Regions from separate parts of the Homo sapiens genome. Here all the other regions are linked to region 1. The links come from fine-mapping of genetic effects on gene expression. A gene starts in region 1. Each other region holds a variant in brackets. All regions are shown on one strand. Distances are between the middles of the regions. Region 1 holds the start of MTR (5-methyltetrahydrofolate-homocysteine methyltransferase). Region 2 overlaps MTR (5-methyltetrahydrofolate-homocysteine methyltransferase). Region 3 overlaps MTR (5-methyltetrahydrofolate-homocysteine methyltransferase).

Region 1 (7,641 bases):
GACTCTTTTTGTCAACAACACTATGAAGGGATTTGAGGGAAGGAAATAGCGGGGCTCACCTTTGTGACAGGGATCTTCTGGGGGAAAACCCATGGTCACCCCAGTAGACTCCAGAAGTAGTACATCCTTGTTCCAGATCTGGCCCATAGTTTATATTTGCAAGACTCTTGACTAGCAGGACACAAAGAGCCACCTAATGGGTTTGACACAACCACCAAGACCAGAGAATAATGCATAAAGCTGGAATGTCAATTTGCTACTGCTATACAGTAGGAGTTGGATATTTAGGTTCACTGATCTCCACTTCTATCTATGAAGACAAATCCACAGGGAAAGAAGTCCCAAATCACCAAGAGGTTGTTTGGACCCTAACCTCTAAACAATGGGTTTGTGTTGGATGAGTTTAATGAGAATGAGCTTAATGAGGGGGAAAAAAGCAGGCTAGCAGGCTATCACCAACTTAAAATAGCAGGTTCTCTCCTACAGAGATAGAGACCCTCGTTAGTCCCAGCCCATCCACAGATATAGTTGTATTAGTTTCCAAGGATTGCTTTAGAGTTTCCGAGGAAGTACAAAAACTGAGTGGCTTAAAACAACAGAAATTTATTACCTGACAGTTCTGGAAGCAAGAGGTCCCAAATTGAGGTGTAGGCAGAGTAATGCTTTTTCTGAAACCTACAAGGGAGAACCCTTTCTTGTCTCTTCTAGATTTGGATGTCTGCTGGCAATCCTTGGAGTTCCCTGGTTTGCAGGTGCTTCCCTCCAGTCTCCACCTTTGTTGGCAAGTGGCTCTTTTCTCCTCGTGTATCTCCCCTTCTCATAAGGACACCAGCTACGCTGGATGATGATCTCATAACTAAACTAACCTGCAACAAACCTATTTCCAAATAGGGTCATTAAGGTCATATTCTTTTTTTTTTTTTTTTTTTTTTTGAGTCTGAGTATCTCTCTGTTGCCCAGGCTGGAGTGTAGTGGCTCAATCTCCACTCACTGCAACCTTCACCCTGCCAGGTTCAAGCGATTCTCCCACCTCTGCCTCCAGTAGCTGGGATTACAGGCATGTGCCACCACACTCGGCTAATTTTTGTGTTTTTCTTTTTCTTTTCTTTTTTTCTTTCTTTTTTTTTGAGACGGAGTTTCACTCTTGTTGCCCAGGCTGGAGTGCAATGGCACAATCTCGGTTCACTGCAACCTCCCCCTCCCGGGTTCAAGTGATTCTCCTGCCTCGGCCTCTCGAATAGCTGGGATTACAGGCATGCACCACCACACCCGGCTAATTTTGTATTTTTAGTAGAGACGGCGTTTCTCCATGTTGGGCAGGCTGGTCTCGAACACCCGACCTCAGGTGATCCGCCCACCTCAGCCTCCCAAAGTGCTGGGATTACAGATGTGAGCCACCACGCCTGGTTAATTTTTGTATTTTTAGCAGAGATGGGGTTTCACCATATTGCCCAGGCTGGTCTCGAACTCCTGGCCTCAAGCGATCCACCAGTCTCGGCCTCCCAAAGTGCTGGGATTGCGGGTGTGAGCCACTGCACCCGGCCCAAATAGGGTCATATTCTGAAGCACTGGAAGTTAGGGCTTCAACATATCTTTGAGGGGGACACATTGCAACCCATACAGTATTCTTGGAACTGTAAATCGCGTTTTTGTACTAGAAATTCACTGCCCCTTTAGGCACTATGTATTCCTCTAATCTTATTTGTTACTCTTTTACGACTTTAAGAAATACAGAATTTGGTCAGTTTTAGCTGAGAGAGTAAACTTTGATGACTTGCATCAAACAGGGACTGGCACACAACTCCTGGAATTTCCAGTAAGAGAATGTGAATGGGGGACAGTTGCCGACTAGGTGCCTGAAAGATCATTTTTCAAGAAACACGTCAACAAACTTTGAGGGATACATGATAATTAAAAAACTAGCTTCAACCCGGGAGGCGGAGGTTGCAGTGAGCTGAGCCAAGATCGTGCCAGTGCGCTCCAGACTGTGCGACAGAGTGAGACTCCGTCTCAAACAAACAAACAACTAGCCCTTATAATCTTTTTTTTTTTTTTTTAGACAGGTGCATCTTTACACAGTTAAATTTCACTACTTCTTTTTTTGCAGATAAAAACTCAGGAGTTGAGAAATGAATAAACATAATAATAAATATGAGAAAACCATCATGATTTATCAAGCCTGGATAAATAATTTAATAAGTTCAGCATAGAAGACCTTGCTTTTTTTTCTTTCCTCCTTTTCTTCTTCTTTTTTTTTAACTTATTTATTTCAATAGGTTTTTGGGGAGCAGGTGGTGTTTGGTTACATGAATAAGTTCTTTAGTGGTGATTTGAGAGTTTGGTGCACCCATCACCTAGGCAGTGGACACTGCACCCAATGTGTAGTCGTTTATCCCTCACCTACTCTCACCCTAGCCCTTATAATCTTAAGATTTTTGGCTATTTAGGGCCATCTCATTCCTCCCTCCCTTCTTTGTTGCATTCTCTCTCACCTACTCCATTCCCCCCACCTTCCAAGTAAGACCATCTTTGGTAAGATGGTCTTGGTAAGAATGTGATACGCATTATAATAATTTTTCAAATCTTCAAAATTGAGGTATAATTACATACAATAAAATGAGAATGGCATGCAAATTTGTGCCTTTTTTAAAGCTTAGTAAATGTCATAATTTGGTTATAGTTTTTATTTTTCTGGATGCATTTGCTTTTCCTTACATCTACCATGCTCAGCCTTACAGAGATTTTTCTAGATGAATTTGCTTTTTCTCACATCTACCATGCTCGGCCTTACAGAGCTGCCCTTTATTTTAGAATTCCCTAAAGTGCTGTGTTGTACACAGGGAGCTTCTCCTGACTGGAACAACCTTACCTGGTACCACTCTTCCTTCAGGACCCAGATTCTTCTTTGAAACCTTTCCCTGGCCCCTTTGAATACTCTAGCTCTTTTAAAATGTATGTGGTTCTTTTTTCCCTGTTCAATTATTAATCTAACTAGGTTGTGAGTTCCTCCTCCAAGGACGTGAGGGTGCGATGTAGCTTGTCTGATTTTGCATTCCAAGTGTGTGCCCCAATGCCTGACACATAGTAGGTGCTCAATATATGTTTACTGTCAATAAGTTACAATTAACACCCCCATATGGTAATTCAGAGTTTTCATAGCGCGGTCAAACGATCTCATTTAACGCCTACTACAACCCTAAAAAATTCTAATTACTACCATCCTATCATTCTTGTTTGTAGAGTGTGGAGACTGAGAGGTTAACTGTCTTGCCCAGCGCAAGTCAACAGCAAAACGGAACTAAAATTTCAGGCTCGACACCACACAGCGTGTCGAGATCAGCACGAACTTGGCGCTGTGACTTTTCCTTAGAGGGGCCACTTAGGCTTACACTTCCGGATCCTGGGCACACAGAGACGCGAAAAGCTCCCGCGGGAAACTGGGGAGCGGGACTACATCTCCCAGAGAGCCCCGGGGCTAAACAGCAGGTGATTGGTTGATATTGACAGCCAATGCGGCTGCGAGGAGCTCGGGCAGACCAATCACAGGCCGGAAGGGGCGGGACCTCCCACGCCGAGGATAGATTGAGCGCAGAACTAACCGCGCTCTGAAAGGTTCTAAATGTCTGCGGGGCTCAGAGCCGGATGTCACGTCGTCCTCCTCTGCCGGTTTTCTCTTGGGTCCTTTTCCGTGCCGTCCCGCGACTCCGCCTCTGGCCGCGCGTGTCTGGCTGCTAGGCCGACACCAAGGACTGGCCGGGTACCCGGGAAGAAAGCACGTGCTCCAGCAGTTGCCGCGCCCAGCCCCGAGAGAGGCCCTAGGGCGCTGCGGGCTTTCGGGGTCCGCAGTCCCCCCGCGACGCGAGCCAACGGGAGGCGTCAAAAGACCCGGGCCTTGTGTGGCAGGCTCGCCTGGCGCTGGCTGGCGTGGCCCTTGGCCGTCGTCACCTGTGGAGAGCACGTCTTCTCTGCCGCGCCCTCTGCGCAAGGAGGAGACTCGACAACATGTCACCCGCGCTCCAAGACCTGTCGCAACCCGGTAACGCTGCGACCCCGTCTGCGTGGTTGGGTTGTGTTTCTTAACTCGTGCTGTGGCCTCCTAATCCCTGGGGCGATTCCCTTCTGCGGCGGGAGACGCCCGGCGGTGTTTCCCCGCGTGTGGGCGGCACCTTTAGAACTTAGCGCAGGAGCCCGGAGGGCTACGTGTTTTGCTCCACTCTTTGTCCGACCTTCACCTCTTTCTCCCCAGGCAAGCCATCAAAACCTGCAAAAAGCGTCCTCCCCTCGCCCCCGAAACACATTCTTAACGTCACAGTAACTAAACTTTCCAGTTCCACGCAGCATAAACCAGCTGGGCCCTCTGGAAGTTTTTTTTTTTGCATGGTGTGACGCTTATTCGTAAATATGTATTGCGCACCTACTGCGAAAGAAAGTTCAGGCGCGGAGAGACAGACGAGGAAACTCAGAGAACTATTTAAAACTACTACATGGAACTTTTTATTTTCTGCTTCTACGCACGCTGCTGCAAAACTGCAATATGCATAGACTCACTATGTTAAAATAGATGAGCAGACCCCACCTCCAGATACCGAAATGGGAGGTAGTAATTTCAAGCGATTCTGATGTTGGTGGCCCTGGGATCAACAGTGAGAAAAAGCTAGTTTAGCACGAGAACTGAACGTAATGTTAGCTTTATAACGAGCTCTAGATCTCTAAGGTCATGCCTGATTATAATTTGAGGACAAATACACCCGTAAAAACGGGTGAGGAGATGTAGAAACGAGAATTAGTGATAAGTACAAAACAGTAAATATCCTATCACATAGTGGGGATGTTTAGCTTCAGGAAGAGGGGGAATACTAAATTCGTAACGCACAAGGAAATTTATCAGAGGTTAACCGGTGACTCTCTTGATTCTTGGGTTCTGATAACGGGACTGATATAATTGTTCTTGAAACTAGTGGAACTGTGGCTGAGAAACACATCACTGCTGTTATTAAATAAGATATAAACCTCCCTATGAGAGGTTTATATGTTATTTAATATATTAAATAAGATGTAATGAGGTTACATCTTATTTATATTTAATATTTAATTAATAAATGTAAACCTCCCTATAAGAGATTTATATCTTATTGAATAAATGATCATAGGGAGATCATATTTATTTGGAAAACATCTTTTACTCATGATTTCTGGCCTCCCCCTTCCCATTTAATTTAAACAAGTAAAGTTATTTCCCTTTCATCTGAATTTAGGTGTCATTATCAGGAGCAAAATGCCACTGAAGACTTAAAATACTGTGAATAGTGAGTGATTTAAAAAAAAAAAATAAACTGAAAGGAAAATTGTTGAATGTTTGAATCTTGCCTAGTCCCCTCACCCCCAAGGCTGGCTTCTAGAGTTGAGCACTGAGTGGAGTTTAACCAAGTCTAGGGCCTCTGAAGTTCTGAATCAGGCCATTGTGCCTAGAAAAGACCTTAGATGTAGTCCAGCTTCTGTCTATGTGAGCAACTTTTATTGGGATTAGAATCAGGTTTTAACTTCCTAATAACCCTTAGTAATTTACTGGCGTACAATCTTAATGAAATTTTAATGGAGAGCTGGGAATTCCTGATTCTCAAGGTTGGGCCTTAAAACTAAATGTGACTTCAGACCATGGTTGTGTGCCCTGGGGAAGGAGGATGGTGGGCTAGCAAATACATCTTGGGAGAAAATTTTAACTACAGCTTCTAAAAGTTTCTTGGTTTCATCCTTGCTTAGGACTGTGAGTGTTATTTGGAACTCAATTGATGAGTGATTAATGAAGGAATGAATAATCCAGTGAATTGGTATCAATTGATGAGTGATTAATGAAGGAATGAATAATCCAGTGAATTGGTATCAGCCTAATTCTTCTCCGGCTTATTAAAATCAAAGGGGGAAATAATATATATTAAAAATGGAATACTGCACAAGCAAAGAGATGCCCCCAAAGAAGCTGGGCGCGGTGGCTCATATCTGTAATCCCAGCACTTTGGGAGGCCGAGGCGTGCGGGTCACCTGAGGTCAGGAGTTCGAGACCAGCCTGGCCAACATGGTGAAACCCCATCTGTACTAAAAATACAAAAATTAGCTGGGTTTATAGTGAGCGCCTATAACCCCAGCTACTCAGGAGGCTGAGGCAGGAGAATCGCTTGAACCCTGGAGGCTGAGGTTGCAGTGAGCCGAGATCATGCCACTGCACTCCATCCTGGGTGAGAGAGTGAGACTTAGTCTCCAAAAAAAAACAAAACAAAACAAAACAAAACCAAAAAAACAAAGTGTAGCAAGTCTGTGCAAACTAGAAATTAGAGATCCAAAAATGAAAGAGAGAAGTATCTTGCAAGTGACTTGTAGGGCAGTAGTAAGATTGTTTTTAATAAAGCAAAGAAAGAACAGTGCTGAGAAAGCCTTGGGATCATTTGATTATAATGCAGAAAATAAAAATGTGCTTTTGCTGTATGTGTTCCCCATTTAGCACAGTGGAAAGAGGGGTCCTAAGTAAGTCAGATCTATTTGGGGTCATTTTACCTTCAGAGCAGATGTGTTCTTGACACTGCAATTTATAACTTACATGCACATATTAGGAATTTATTTGTTTAGGCCTTCATCTTGTCATTCTTTAGGCTAGTTCTTAAAGGTGGTACTAGCTGGTCTACCCCCCTCCAAATCTGACTAGGGCTTTAACCACTTATACCTATGTTTATTCTTTGGAACACTTGCTGTGAATCAGAATATTGTTAGCTAGAAAATAAGATGTTAAGGGCACGGAAAAAAACCCCACAAAATATATTGGCTAAATCCACTCAAAACTGGAGAAAATACTGTGTGATCTCTTAGGCTCACTAGCCAAGGATGTTCCTTGGGACTCTCCTCTGCACTGCGGTTATTTACATATATACATTAAACATAAAAATATTTCTGAAATAGTGTTATAACTAGTCAGCTAAGTAAAGGAACTGCAAAACTATATTCTTATATTTACTGTGAAAGATAATCAGAAAGAATCTGCTTTATTTAGAACTTGACTAGTCAGTAGTTAAGTATACAGAATGTTCTAGACCTAATGAACTGAATACAGATAAATACAATTTTGTTGTTCTTCATGGAAGAGTGACATTTCAGTAGATCCCCACTCTGCCAGGGGAAGGAATTGTCAAGGTGACTTATTCTTTTGAGCAAGTTCTGATAGTAATTGGAAACTGGTGAATTAGAATGGTAATTAAAGCCCAGTGAAAAATGACCTCCTACTGGAAAAACTGGAGGAATACAGAAGGCTAAAAATAGTGAACACTTAATACCAACAGATTTTCTGAAGGAAGACTTCTTAGTTTCTCTAAATGGGAAATCTTACATTATCCTCTAAAGGAAAAATAAGCAAGTAGTTGAGGAAACTATGTTTTTTTTTTTCCCCCTTTTTCTTGAGACAGTCTCACTCTGTTGCCCAAGCTGAGGGCAGTGGCGTGATCACGGTTCACTGCAGCCTCGACTTCCCAGGCTCAAGCAGTTTTCTTGCCTCAGCCTTACTAGTAGCTGGGACTACAGGTGCATACTACCAGGCTTGGCTAATTTTTGTTTTTTTTTTTTGTAGAGATGAGGCCACTGTGTTGCCCAGGCTGTTTT
Region 2 (7,641 bases), 64 kb after region 1:
TCTGATATATTATTGAAACTAGTGGGAAGAGTATAGCCTCTGATCTTCCAAGGCTCTCTAATCTCACATTTGGGGAGGAATGGGATTTTTTTGAAAAACAATTTTCCTAATTTAGTTCAGACTGACCTGTGGTAAGTAAATTATTTTTGATAATAAAAATTTCCAGATACCATGTAATTTACATGGAGGATCTTTATTAAATGGTACCCTAATGGAGGCCAGGCCTCCTATGGAGTGGAAGGATTGGTGCTCTGGATAGGATGGCTGTGGAATGACCCGGGAGCTTGAGAATATTCTTGATACTTTCTGGGAAAGTTTTCTGTTCTTTGATTTGGCCTTGATCCCTTCCTTCACCATTTGAGCTCACATTCTTCCTTGGCTTTCTCTGCAGCAGTTTACTCCCTTTGATAACCTACACAACCGTGAGGCCCCTGTGAGGCAGAAGCAACTCTAGAGTGGGAAGAAGTAGTTTTTCTCATTAGCTTTGTACACGTACAGATACAAGGAGTAGCCAGATGGACATGACAATTGCTTGGTCAGTTTGCTTGGTAGCTTTCTATGTAAGCTTCCACAGTGTGCCTGGGTCTGGTCTTCCTTAGTATGTGAAAACTGTGTAGCACCTTGTTTGTGTATCATGGAGAACTCCCTATTGAATAACTACATGAATAGTGAGATGGGCCTCAGCATGCCATTGTGTATTTCTGAAATAACTGCTTTTAACTGTACTGTTTCATTTTAAGTATTGCTTTCATGAGTCAAATTCATCAGGTTTGGAACATAGCTATCAGGTGGGATAGTTTTTAGACATCACAACCTCCAACACTTCAGTGAATTCTTTACTGCTGTTTGTAGCCTCTTTTGCCTCTGTCCATAATCATATATTTTTTGCTCCCTTCCCACCCCATAAGTCTGGTACATTGTGGTATTTTTCTGTGAACACACCAGTTCCTTTTTTCAAGAGTGTTTGGAACACACCGCCCTGTTTTTACACAGCAAAACTCCATCCCCCAGGTAGGAGTTGTCTGATTGTGTGGCTAATAGAACAAATGGTATTTACAGGTATCAAGTGATGGGACTGTGAACATCAGAGGGACTTTTTCTTTTTTTTTACTATCTCGTTCAGGTTTTTCAACATATGAGAGTCCTTGTATTATTATTCCAGTTACCACTTTGGCCCTAAATCTTGGAGTTCTCCCCAATTCCTTCCTCCTCTCCTTCTTCTTTCTTCTTTCTTCTTTCTTTTTTTCTTTCTTCTTTCTTCTTGTTCTTCTTCTTTCTTTTTTTTTCTTCTTCTATTATTATTATTTTTATACTTTAAGTTCTGGGATACACATGCAGAATGTGCAGGTTTGTTACACAGGTATACACATGCTATGGTGGTTTGCTGCACCATCACCCCATCATCTATATTAGGTATTTCTCCTAATGCTATCCCTTCCCTAGCTTCCCAACCCCCCGACAGGCCCTGGTATGTGATGTTCCCCTCCCTGTGTCCATGTGTTCTCATTGTTCAACTCCCACTTATGAGTGAGAACATGCAGTGTTTCGTTTTCTGTTCCTGTGTTAGTTTGTTGAGTGTGATGGTTTCCAGCTTCATCCATGTCCCTGCAAAGGACATGAACTCATCCTTTTTTATGGCTTCATAGTATTCCATGGTGTATATGTGCCACATTTTCTTTATCCAGTCTATCATTGATGGGTATTTGGGTTGGTTTCAAGTCTTTGCTACTGTGAACAGTGCCGCAATAAACATACGTGTATGTATCTTTATAGTAGAATGATTTATAATCCTTTGGGTATATACCCAGTAATGGGGATTACTGGGTCAAATGGTATTTCTGGTTCTAGATCCTTGAGGAATCGCTGCACTGCCTTCCACAATGGTAGAACTAATTTACACTCCCATCAGCAGTGTAAAAGCATTCCTATTTCTCCACATCCTCTCCAGCATCTGTTGTTTCCTGACTTTTTATCGCCATTCTAACTGGCGTGATATGGTATCTCATTGTGCTTTTGATTTGCATTTCTCCCTCCTCTCCTTCTTAGTTATTGTCTATTAATACCTTTATATTTGTCCTTTCCTTTCCTCCTGTTACCACTACTGAGTCCAGGCCTCCATCAAGGACTATTAAAATATTCTCCCCATTTTGTGATTCCCTTAAAAATGTGACTTTGAATGTTAATCTGCAGCTTTAGAACTTTGAATAATGTCTCCCCCTTCTGCCCATGCAATTGCCTGGAAGGTCAAATTTAAACTCCACCGCATGGGTTTTTGGCCCTCTGTGTCTTGGCCTCTACCACCCTGGACAAACATTACTCCAGCAAAATCAGTCTTTGTGTAGCATTAATTCATCCAGCTAATATTTACTAAAATGTCGCTTTGTGCCATTCATTTGACTGAACTTAGAGGATCTAACTAGTAAGAGAGATGTACCCCTACCCTCTGAGAGCCTACAGCTCAGTGATACATGCAGAAATGTATAGAGGTGATTGTCACCCAGCGCAGCAAGTGCTGTGAGAGGGGAAGTGCAGGACGCTAGGAGAAGCCTGAGGGAGATTCTGACCCCAAACTAGAGATGGTCAGGGAAAGCTTCCCAGGGGAAGTGATAGGTCAGGTGAGACTTGAGAGAAATAAAGGAGGTGGCCAGGCCAAGGTTTGGGGGTAGAGTGCAGTGCTGGTGGTCCCTGCCAGGGGAGAGATATTTGCATGTAGCCAGAGTCTGGCATGGTCATAGGTACTGCATAAATGTATGTCAGATGAACAAATGCGAAGGCCTGGTGGTAAAGAGTTGATGGGGAGGGGAGCATAAGGAACAGAAGTGTTCTGGATGGCTGAAGCTTGTCGGGAATGGCAGAAGAGAAAGCCAGATCAGGTGTACTAGTCCATTCTCATGCTGCTGATAAAGACATACCCGAGACTGGGTAATTTATGAAGAAAAGGAGGTTTAATGGACTCACGGTTCCACGTGGCTGGGGAGGTCTCACAATCATAATGGAAGGTGAAAAGCACGTCTTACATGACAGCAGATAAGAGAGGGAACTTGTGCAGGGAAACCCCTTTATAAAACCATTAGATCTTGTGAGACTTACTCACTATCACAAGAACAGCACAGGAAAGACCCGTCTCCATGATTCAGTTACCTCCCACTGGGTCCCTCCCACGACGTGTGGGAATTGTGGGAGCTACAATTCAAGATGAGATTTGGGTGGGGTCACAGCCAAACCATCTCATCAGGGCATTGGATGGCATGGTAAGGAATCAGTACCATGTCGTGAAAGCAATAGGAAACTTACACAGAGATTTTTTTCACAGGGAGCAGTTGGATCAGATTTGCATTTTGGAAGCATCCTTTTGGCTACAGTGTGGAAGATGAATCAGAGACCAGAATGATTCTGGGCTGTGGAGACTACTTAGTTCTTGGGCTGTGAAAATGGAAGCAGGGTGGAGAGAAAAAGTTTTGAGGTGTAATCATTAGGATGAGGTGATTGATTGAATTTGAGTAGTGAATGGAGATTCAAAGGTGATACTTAGGTTTCC[G/A]GTTTGGCAGCTGGTACCTCCAGTTGAGGTGGAGAAAACAATAAAGTAATGCAATTTATCAGGTGTGCCATGATCATTGCGCTTTTGTTCCTTTGCTGAATCTGCCCCTTCTCATCATTCAGCTTCTTTGAAACTTTTCTTTGCCACCTTAGCTTACGATAACCATTCCTTCCTCAAAATTCCTATGTACTTAGTCTGTATTATGTACTCATTCAGCCCTTGACATATACTCCCTTTCTTTCTTTACATATTTTCTACCTCTCTTATGACATGGCTGTCTTACTCTGTTTTCTTTGGCTCTAACGGAATACCAAAGACTGGATAATTTATAAAGAAGTTTATTTAGCTCACAATTCTGGCAGCTGGAAAATCCAAGAGTATGGCCTTGGCCCCTGGTGAGGGCCTTCTTGCTGTGTCATAACATGGCAGAGGGCATCTCATGTCAAGAGGGCAAGAGCAAGAGAGCCAGAGAGATAGCAAACCTGCTTCCATGGTAGCAACATTAATCCAGCCGTCATAAATTCGTTAATCCATTCATGGGGGCAGAGGGATTAGGTTTCCAACACAACTTTTGGAGGACACCTTCAAACCATAACAATGGCAGAGTCCTTGAGAGCATAGTCTGTGTCGTACACCTCCTAGTGTGCCCACCTTTGATGTCTGACTTAGCTTCATTATGGCCTCCCTGCATCTGTTTTTGGGTACTGGTGATCCTTGTTGAGAGCTTTGAAGGCTCATTGGGTTTGGAGTATAGCTTCTCTTACTGTCCTGGAAATTTTGTGTTGAGTTGTTATTTTTAGAAAAGAGGGAAAGGAAAGAATGGAATTTTACTCTGTCTCTACACTAACAGTTCAAACCCTAAAAGATTTCTCATTTTTCCCTCTCCTTCCCTCAAACATTCATTGAGATCTTATTTTATGCTGGACAGTCTACTAGGGGCTGGAAAAGTAAAAGAAGAATAAGACACAGGTTTTTTTGTTTGTTTGTTTGTTTTGCCATCAAACAGTTTGGTTAGTGATGAGTTGTATCCATTTCTTGGTTTCAATTTCAATTCAGACTCAAGGCACAGGAGGGAAGAAAGTCATTCAGACTGATGAGTGGAGAAATGGCCCTGTCGAAGAACGCCTTGAGTATGCCCTTGTGAAGGTAAGTTACAGGGGCCTGAACTGGAGGGCTGGAGGCTCATCATGGCTGACTGATCCTGTTGTGGGCGGTGTGACAGTAGCTGGAGAAGGAGATGCCTAGACCACTGATTCTCAACCTGGGGAGGTCCCTCTTGCTGTCCCCCAGCTGCCCCCCCCCCCCCCCCCCCCCACCATAGCACATTTGACAGTGTTCAGAGACATTTTTGATTGTCGTAACTGTGCCTGGGAGGTATTACTGGCATCCTATGGCCAGGGGTGCTGCTAAACATCCTGCAGTGCCCAGGACAGCCCCAAACCACAAAGAATATTCCTTCCCAAGTGTTAGTAGCGCCGAGGCTGCGAATCCTGTCCTGGACCAAGTTGCTGGTCAGTTGGTCAGCAAGTCAGTTTCATAGTTGGAATTTTAGGCTTTAAGCAAGATCAGTAATCTCTTGGCTTCAGTTTCCTCATGTGTGAGTCTGGAGAATCTCAGAGTTTTGTTTTGTTTTGTTTTTTTTTGGCTCTGGAGTTTAACATTTAACTCTTTCACCTTTTGAGATTCACATATTTCAGTTTGTGGAGCTAGTTGGCCAATCCAAGGATCATTGAACTGGGGACCTTGGAGGAGTGGGGCTTGTCATTGAAGGGCGGATAAGTCAATGGAGGCTTCATGGATTTGAACTTCATTTAAGGGCCTCATCCAGTGTCATTTCTCCCCAGCCCTACAGCATTACAGTGAGAAAACTTACTGATTTCTCCACAGGCATTTATTAATGTATAATCTGGTAAAACACGAAGATACAAAATGGATTTTATGCATTTGAACTTATTAGTCCTTCTCTGTTAGCACATTTTACTGAGGTATATTTTAAAGCATTTTTTAATTGGCATATAAAATTGTATGTATTTACTGCATACAACATTCTGTTTTGGAAGTGTATGAGGTATTTACTTTGTTTGTATCAATAAAGCCAGCTAAGCACTTTATCTCAATCCTCAAAATAAACATATGAGATACTATTGTAATATTCTAATTGAGGAAACTGAGGCTTATTGAATTGCCTAAATTAGTGATAGGAAGCCAGATTGAGTCCATGCACTCTGCTTCTGGAACCTGTGCTGTTAGGCATTTTCATGATGGCTCTGTGGAGGTAAGGCAGTTTTTTAGGTGATTTTTTTTTTCTTTCTTTCTTTTTCTTTTTTTTTTTTTTTTGTCTTTTTTAGGGCATTGAAAAACATATTATTGAGGATACTGAGGAAGCCAGGTTAAACCAAAAAAAATATCCCCGACCTCTCAATATAATTGAAGGACCCCTGATGAATGGAATGAAAATTGTTGGTGATCTTTTTGGAGCTGGAAAAATGTTTCTACCTCAGGTTAGCAAAATATGGGGAGAAATTTTCACAGTTGCATCTTTTCTTTGTCATTTAATAAATGGCGATTTGGGATATATTTCTCAGGTTTTAATTTGGACAAGAGTTCAATGGTATTGGCTAGTCATTCCTTCTCTAAATATGTTTAGGAGTCATGTCTGCAAGAATCCGTCTTCAGAGTGGTGTGGATGTTGGAAATCCGAAAATTCTTAGCATCATAATCTATCATAATCCTTATGTTCTAATTTTTGTATCACCTCTTACCCCCAGTGCCTATCTCTCCCCTCCAAAAGTAAAGTAAAACCCAAGATAAATGTAGAGTTACTAACATTAAGACTTGATTTGACCAGGCACTGTTCATCTGTAAGGATGCATATTTTGAGACAAATGTTACTGTTTTAAATGACGGTACATTAAGTGGTTTGTTTAAAGTAAAACCAGAACTCTTACTTTGATTTACAGCAGCTGCTAACCACATCAGTTAACACATACTTGTTGAGCATGTAGGTTAGTGGCTGTGCGGCATTTGAGAAACTAAAAGGCCTTCATCTTGCCTTAATGTAAGACTGGATTTTAAGTGAGTTTTAAAGCTGGGGATTGAGAAGAGAAGGCTGGGAATGAGCTCATGGTGGAGAAGCTTTGGTCCTGAAGGATACATAGAACTCTTGGATAAAAGATAGAGGGCCTCCTAGACAGAGGAAAAAAAAACAAGCCAAAGTTCAGAAGACAGAAATTGCAACATTTGATTTCCAGCCTTGTTTTCCTTCTGCTGTACCTTATTATTCACTGGCTTTCCCTCTGGGGAGCTTATCCTTTGTTCTGCCTACTGTCAAAAGACTCCAGTGTAGCTGTCCTGAAGTCAAAGCATGCATTCCTAATGTGTGCCCAAATTTCACAAGTGGCCATCAGCAGTTGTTCCTGTGGTTTGGGAAAGATACCTGATCTATGCTTTTTTTCTCAGGTTATAAAGTCAGCCCGGGTTATGAAGAAGGCTGTTGGCCACCTTATCCCTTTCATGGAAAAAGAAAGAGAAGAAACCAGAGTGCTTAACGGCACAGTAGAAGAAGAGGCAAGTCATTTTGTTCAGGCCTATGGGCCTTTAGTGGGTTGACCTGGAAGACTTGAGGTGGTGGTAGGGGCCTAAGCAGTCAGGGTTGGCTGTGTTCGTTATTGAGGATAAAATAGAGAAATGATCCCACATCTCTCCCTTTTTTAACCGAGTATCAGAATACTCTGGGACTTTCTTTTGAATGTAGCTTTATAACATTTTTAATATAGATACAATTTTTCAATCAAAACCCATGTTTTCAAGACAAAGCCAGTTCATTCATTTGTGCCTTCATTACCTGATCATTTACGAAGCTGCTGTGATGTGCCAAGTACTGTGCCAGGCACTGCTCACTCAAAGGTCTGTCCCCGCCCTTGAGGTCATTGAGTCATGCTTGTTTTTAGAAAACTCTTAACTGAATAGTCTTTCTGCTGGTGATGTCCTTGGCACCACTTCTGGATTCAATTTAATTCTTGTTGGCTGCACCACCAGAGTAAATCATTAAGCTTTTTGACCTTGTTTAGCTCCCTGTGAAGCTCAGACAGCTTTGGCCCCTA
Region 3 (7,641 bases), 55 kb after region 1:
TTTAGATTTGTCATTGAGGAACATGGCGTGTCTTTCAATTACTCATTCAATGGAGTTTTGTAATTATCCCTAAATAGGCAATCTCTAGATCATTCCTGTGTGTTTTGTTTGTTGTTTTTATTGTAATTGGCTTATTTTTTCTTTGGTAAATTTTTTCCCTTTGGTATTGATTTTTAGATTTTTTCCCTTGGAAACTTCCTTTTCTTCAGTGTTTCCCTTCCTACTTGTCAGTGTCTCTCTTGAAAGGCACAAACATCCGTTTCCATCACTTCTGTTTTTTTTGTTTTTGTTTTTGTTTTTGTTTTTTTGAGATCAAGTCTCACTCTGTCGTGCAGGCTGAAGTGCGGTGGCGTGATCTCAGCTCACTGCAACCTCCGCTTCCCGGGTTCAAGCAATTCTCCTGACTCAGCCTCCCAAGTAGCTGGGACTACAGGCCTTTGCCACCACAACTGGCTAATTTTTGTATTTTTAGTAGAGATGGGTTTTCACCATGTTGGCCAGGCTGTTCTCGAACTCCTGACCTCAGGTGATCCACCTGCCTCAGCCTCCCAAAGTGCTGGGATTACAGATGTGAGCCATTGTACTGGGCCGGGCCACTTCTTTTTTTAATTACAGCCCCAGGATGGGCCTCTGCTTCCTCCAGGGTTCTCTCGCCCATCTTCAACTACTTCAGTTCGATTTTAAAACTTTAACTCACCTCTGAAGTTAGCCCTGTTCGATCTCTGCTCCTTGTCAGACTACATTAAAGAATCTAGATGTCTTCTACACATTGTCCTTCTCTTCCTCACAGTGTCTGCCTTGATGACCAAATCAAAAATTGTTTTATTGCATTACTGCCTGAGTGTGTGATATTTTAGCAGAATCTGAGCCATGAGCTTCTTAAGTAAAGCCTTCTACTCACTGGTCACAGTCTAGCTTCTCTATGGCTTAAGAGTAAACCTGTTTGATAAAGCTATAAATGGCATTTATTCCTTCCTTCTTGCTGCTTAGAATCTCACTGAGTTTTTCTTCTACTCCAACTGAAGAAGGTGCCACATCTCACCTGTTGGTGGTTCTCACCTGGCTTTATATTAGCATCACTAAGGGGCTTTTACAAAACACTTGCTGAGACCCCATCTCCAGATTCTGATTTAACTGGTTCAGGGTGAGGTGTTACTATTATAAAAAACAAGCAAACAGAAATCCCTCCAGGGTATTGTAATGTGCAACCAGAGTTGAAAGCCCTTCCTGATGGAGTAAAGCTGCCATTCCGTTGTTTTACTGAACTTCTATTCTGGATCTCTGAAATCCACCAGCACGATTGAGGCTTTATTAGTGTGTCTGTCCCACAGCCCTGGTGAGGAGTAAGACAGAAGCTTGGTGAACCTTACGTGATATGAGATATGACCTGCTCCTGACAAAGGCCTGTACACCAATGCCGTGTTCACTCTGAGAGTCATTGTTTAATCAAGTGACAGAGGTTGAGTATCTGTTAATGTGGCACAGATACTGTGCTAGACGCCATGAGAACAATTTGACAAGGGCTTCATCCTTATGGAGGTTAGAGTTGATGACTCTGTTTTGGTTCTAGAAATGAATTCCTGTCCTGTGAGGATGCACCTGCTTGTCCCACAAGCAGGGCTGTCTTTGGTATACAGCTGGGCCCTACACCCTACTCTCCTGTGGGTAACATACTGTTCACTTCAACCTGCCCTGCTTGGCCAGATAATATTCATGGCTCAGATGAGGAATGACCAGGACCTTGACTTCTTCATCTACCAACCAGACTAGGTTACTCAGTAATACTAGTAGCATTGGTCGCCCCTGTGCCTTCTCTCTTAGTGAGCTTAGATGAGCCATGAACCTAGAGCCTAGAACTCTATTGGGCTGTCTGGTGAAGGGTAGACTTTAAAAGTTCAAGCCTAAAGGCAGCTGCAAATGGGCTGTTTCTGACCAGTTTTTTCTGACATACATCTCAGTCTCAACCTTAACCTTTTCACTCTAACTGAAGGCAGAGGAAGTAAGCATTGAGAAAATTCCATTAAGGAAGACGAAAGCTCGCCACCTTCCCTAAAGCCTGGGTGCAGTGAGGCCACAGAGACCACTTCCTGTCTCCCTTTCCCTGGGCCATTTTGTCTGCTAAGTCCTGGAGGCACTTCCCTCCCAAGTAGAGGTGAAGTCTCACCCCACCAGCTGCAGAGAGCGATTAAAGAGACCAAAGAAAACAGTTGAAAAAGAATACCAAAGTAGTAAGTGATCAAAAGGCTAGATCTAAGAGAGAGTTCTTTTCATAATTCCCCTACTCCTCATTTCTGTTGTCTAGGGCCTCACTAGATGCACTTGACCTATGTCCGTGTCCCTACCCCCTCATCTCCACAGAAGTCTGCAATATAGATTGCAGTAGGGTTGGCCATTTTTCAAGAACATTTTTCGCGTTCATTGAGAATTGACCTTCAGAATTGTGACTTATTTTTTCTTATCTCTGGAGTGATAGCAAGTAATCATTTTTTAAGAGTAGATTTGATTTTTCATACAACCAGAAATAATTCAGGATGTAATTTGGTGAATACCCTGTGTTGAGGTTGTAAATTTGATCTGAAGACAGTTTCCATGACAAAGTTCAGAAATACTTTGAGTAAAAGCAGCATTCATACATAATGTTGAGCACCTACTTTGACAGGCACTGCTCAGGGCACTGGGGATAAAGCAAGACTGGCATTCTATCTAGGGGAGAGGAGTTTACCAATTAACAAGTAATAAAACAACGAAAAATACTAAAGATGTTGCCAAAATAATACAATTTCTGGAAAGAAATACTCCGAAGAAGAATGGAGGAGGTGGGGAAGGGTGGAAGTGGCTGGTTTAGAGAGGGTGATTTAAGGTAGGCTCTGAAAAGGGGGCACTTGGGCAGAAGCCTTAGTTCTGTGAAGCACAAAGCCATGTCATGGTATGTTCTGGTAGTGGCAGCAATAAATGAAAGTTGCTGAGGGAGGAACAAGCTTGACGGGTTTCAAAAACACCAAAGGAGCAATGTAGGAGGTGCGGAGTAGAGGAGAGGGCAAATGGTAGGAGATGAGATTGGAGATGGAGGCTGAGATTCTGAGGCTTTTGGGAAGCAGCTGGGGGATGAGCCTTGCCGGAGTTAGTGTTTTGCCTTTTAGGGACATTATTTTGAAGGTAAAGACTAATTTGTATTTATGACTTAAGACACATGTTAGGCCAGTGTTAAAATGGGTGAAGGTGAGGAATAAATGCATATCCTTGAATATGCTTAGAATGTTTTTGCAAGAAGATCTGAGAAAGCAATGGCAGTGTTTCCTGGGTGATAGGTTGTGACACTGCTGTCAGGTCAAGAGAGGAAGGGGCACTTACATGTTAATCTCTTCTTTAGTAGTATTTGATTTTTTATCATATGCATGTATTTTTAGAAGCTTTTTCATAATATACCATATGTGTGTATATGTTTAAGGTTTGATTTTTTGCAGAAAGAGTATAGCTGCTGTGTTTGTGAAAACACAAAGAGATCTTTAAACCAGTCTCTCCTCTGAGATAATTTGATAAGTGATCGGAAGCTGCTTGGCATTTAGATTTCTGTGAAATCCAAGCATTGACACTTGAGTGTTTTCAGTGAGTGAAATGTGCTCTAATGTATAACACTTAATATTTTAATATTAATATTTTATTAAAATAAAATAACAGGTATTTAATATTAATATTTTAATAGATAATTTTTCTATTTCAAACTACATCTTTTGCTCTTTTCCCTAGGCAACAGAAACAGACACAAAAATCAGAGTGTGCACCCGGGCCTACCATCTGCTTGTGAAAAAACTGGGCTTTAATCCAAATGACATTATTTTTGACCCTAATATCCTAACCATTGGGACTGGAATGGAGGAACACAACTTGTATGCCATTAATTTTATCCATGCAACAAAAGTCATTAAAGTAAGTGTAGGCATGTTCTCTCCCAAGTCATGGCTCAAATTTGTCCCATGGGTCTAATGAATGGTTAGAACTAACTTATATATTTATTGG[CTGA/C]TGAAATGTTAACATTCTTAGTTAGTAAATTGTTTTTCTGAAATGTAGGAGACCTTATTTTTTTTCTTTAGTAGAGTTTTAACTTGTGTAACAAACAGACTGGAGAACATAACAGAGCCTGATGAACTCGCTTGAACCCAGGAGGGTGGAGGTTGCATTGAGCTGGGATCACGCCAGTGCGCTCTAGCCTGGGCGACAGAGTGAGGCCCTGCCTTGAACAAAATGATGCAAAACAAAAAAACCACAGAACCTGATAAATAATTAATTATGAAGCATATAAGAGCCTTCACTTAGGTCCCAAAATAGAGCATAGCTAGCGCCCCCGTCTGTCTCTCCTTTTCCAGTTACACCTCATTCTCAATTTTATAAAGTAGCTATTGTCCTGAGTTTTATGACGCTACTCTGTTGCTTTTCTTCATAAATTTATTGCTTATATATGTAGATTTGATTTGCATCATCTATGGATTTTATATTTGCAAATTCATGTACTTACTGAAATTTATTTGTGACCCCAAAATCAATACTCAACGTCACTTCTGCAGTTGTTCAGACTTACCCATATGCAGAGTGGTGGAAAATTTGAGTGGCCCAACCCATATTATTCCCAAAGAGGGCAAACATGGCAGTGACCTACCTTCTTATTTCAGCTCTCATCCTGTACACAGATGTCCTTTTTGCAGTCTAATGCCATGTTTTTCACACTTTTATGCGTTTTGTTGGTGAGGTCACTTTTTAAAATGGCCCCATACTAGTGCTGTCTAGTGTTCTAAGCACAAGAAGGCTGTGATGTTCCTTAGGGAGGAAATATGTGTGTTAGATAAGCTTTGTTCAGACATGAATTATAGTGCCATTGGCTGTGAATTCAGTCTTAATGAATCAACAGTAAATATTAGATACAGCATCTTAACATACATGCACAAAACAAGGTTATGTATTGATTGGTTGACAAAAATGTCATCAGAGGCTCATAGGAACCTAGCCCTGTATTTCTCCTAGGAGCAATGCTCTGGTATTCCCTAATTCAGTGTTTGCAGTGACTTTAAAGAACATAACTACCACAAAATAGTAAGAATTGACTGAATATCTGAATGATATAGTTTGGTTTTGCCTGCTTTTGAGCCTAATAAAAATAGAATCGTAATATTTTTATGTTTTTTTCTTACTCCATACTAAAGATTTATCTGTGTGGCTGTAGCTGTTTGTTCATTTTTATTAATGTATAATATTCTATGGTATAACTATACCACAATTAACTGTTCTATTGTTGATGGACATCTAGTTTTTTTCCAGCTTTTGGACATTATGAACAATGCAGCTCTGAGTATTCTTATATATGTATCTTAGACATGCATGCCTGAACTTCTCTGTAGCATAGACCCAGAAGTGGTTGGCTCATAGTAGTAGATAATGACAAACTGTCTCCCTAGATTCTTGAGCCAATAATAGTGAAAGTTCCTGTTATTCCACAAGCCTGATGATGCTTGATACTGTCATCGGTATGGTTGGAACTTCAATTTCCTTTTGTCCTTTTATAGTCGGTCAAGTTCATAGTGAACTAGGGAGTCTGTTCATTTAGGCTATGGAAGCCTTCTAGTAATTTGTACTTTCAGTGAATAAGGAATTCCTCTTTGTCTTTCTGCGTGTGTGTGTGTGTGTGTGTACGCGCGTGTTCTCCTTAGGGAGATTGGAGTCTAGTAGGAAAAACTACTTACGAAGCAGCGCCTTTGTAATACTGTAATACGGCAAGCTTTGGTCTATGTCTAGTAACAAGAAGCTCTGAATTACTTTGAACTTCGGATGCTTTTTGTTTTTTTTTCTTTCCACTCCTATATAAAGCTTAAGAGATGTGATTGCTGTTTTTGGCAAAAAAGGGGAATCTTTTCATATTTTAAAATTTTTGCCAGGAAACATTACCTGGAGCCAGAATAAGTGGAGGTCTTTCCAACTTGTCCTTCTCCTTCCGAGGAATGGAAGCCATTCGAGAAGCAATGCATGGGGTTTTCCTTTACCATGCAATCAAGGTATGGTAGAAGAACTCTTAGCCCTGCGGAAACCAGTTTTTAGTTGGGGCAGGGGTTTTCAAAGTGTGGCATGCAGGCTAAGTCCGGCCTGCTGCCAGTTTCTGTAAATAAGATTTTATTGGGATAGAGCCACACCTATTCATTTGTATCTTGTCTGTGGCTGCTTTTATGCTGTAACTACAAAGTTGAGTAGCTGTGACAGAGGCTATGGCCTAAAATATTTCTCTCTGGCCCTTTACAGAGAAAAGTTTGCTGATCGCTGACTTAAGGTATCACTGTAAATTCTCATTTTTATTTGTATTGCCCTTAGTCTGGCATGGACATGGGGATAGTGAATGCTGGAAACCTCCCTGTGTATGATGATATCCATAAGGAACTTCTGCAGCTCTGTGAAGATCTCATCTGGAATAAAGACCCTGAGGCCACTGAGAAGCTCTTACGTTATGCCCAGGTAGAGAGACAAGTGTTCTAATAGATGGATTTTTCCTATCTTTGAATGTATTACTCACCTACAGTTAGTAGACCTTCATGGTGGAATAGAAGCAAATATCGAATCATATATTTGGATCACTGAAGATTTCTACAGAGAGTTGCAGAGATGGTGGTGTAGCTAGGGCAAGGAAGGGTAAACAGACCATGCCTAGGGTGCTTCCGTATTCTGAACTTAGGTTTCTTTAAATTTATTGTAAAATGTAAAATTAATTTTTCTTGTACCAAGTAACATATTAGTTCTAGAAAATTTACAAAATTCTGGTAAGCAAAGGAAGAAAATAAAAATCACTTGTAATCCTACCACCCAAAGTTAAACACTTGAGATTTTGTTATAACCTTTAAGTGATGGGAGTTTTTATTTCTTTTTGCAAAATGAATATGCATGCATAGGTACATATACATACATTTTTTACAAAAATAGAACTATACTCTAGATGCTTTTATGGTAATATTTTTTTCTTAGCAGTGTACTGGGAACATATTTCCATTTTACTTGATATTTTTCTACCTCATTATTTAAAATAGCTGTTCTGGATTTTCTTGTGTGGCTATGTTAGTGTTACATGGTCCCCACTGTTCCATGTTTTGGTTTGTATACCTGTTTATGTTAGGATCTGGTCCATCTGTGGCAAAGTTCTGCAGTTCAAGGCTTAGGTCTGTGCACATTTGATGTGTAAAAAATGAGTATAATTATAGCTAATTCAAACACCAGCTTGTTTCTCATTTATATGTTGGGCGCAGTCCTAGGCACATGAAGTATCTATCGTAGATGGTTCTTCTTAGAATTCAGTTTAAGGAAAGTTGAGATCTTTACCTCAAAAGAACTTGCATTTTAATCTGTTTAAGAGAATGATGGCAAAGGAAGATATTTTTCCCACAAAGCATGTTGAGAAAGTGGTAGGATGCTTTTGTGTCTCTTGCCAACTTTGTTAATGTTTTCCATGTTAGAATCTGAATTTAGCTCTGATAGAACTGCCAACTTTGCCTCTTCCACAGAAGAGTAATAAAATGCTCTGGAAGAAGGATAGGACACTATGAGATTAACCACATCCTTGTTTTATCAGCCTTACTGGTAGTAAGACTTAGATTTCTGAAATTGCTTATGGAA

Evidence for each region. PIP is the estimated chance that this variant, and not a neighbour inherited with it, causes the effect. A credible set is the group of variants that fine-mapping cannot tell apart.
Region 2: its variant is the best candidate, but not a certain one, in a credible set for the expression of MTR in whole blood (TOPMed, PIP 0.83).
Region 3: its variant is the best candidate, but not a certain one, in a credible set for the expression of MTR in cerebellar hemisphere (GTEx, PIP 0.55).

The regions. Positions count from the first base shown.
Region 1 is chr1:236,791,702-236,799,342 of GRCh38, forward strand. It overlaps MTR (5-methyltetrahydrofolate-homocysteine methyltransferase), which reads left to right and starts at 3,591. Exons shown (of 33, transcript NM_000254.3): 1 at 3,591-4,036. The coding sequence starts at 4,003. RefSeq lists enhancers at 3,617-3,906, 4,007-4,196.
Region 2 is chr1:236,855,239-236,862,879 of GRCh38, forward strand. It overlaps MTR (5-methyltetrahydrofolate-homocysteine methyltransferase), which reads left to right. Exons shown (of 33, transcript NM_000254.3): 19 at 4,595-4,684; 20 at 5,887-6,039; 21 at 6,998-7,105. Among named protein-coding and RNA genes, the nearest start is that of MTR, 64 kb to the left of the region's middle. The variant G/A (reference allele first, on the strand shown) is at 3,539.
Region 3 is chr1:236,846,597-236,854,237 of GRCh38, forward strand. It overlaps MTR (5-methyltetrahydrofolate-homocysteine methyltransferase), which reads left to right. Exons shown (of 33, transcript NM_000254.3): 16 at 3,748-3,927; 17 at 5,925-6,041; 18 at 6,352-6,492. Among named protein-coding and RNA genes, the nearest start is that of MTR, 55 kb to the left of the region's middle. The variant CTGA/C (reference allele first, on the strand shown) is at 4,018.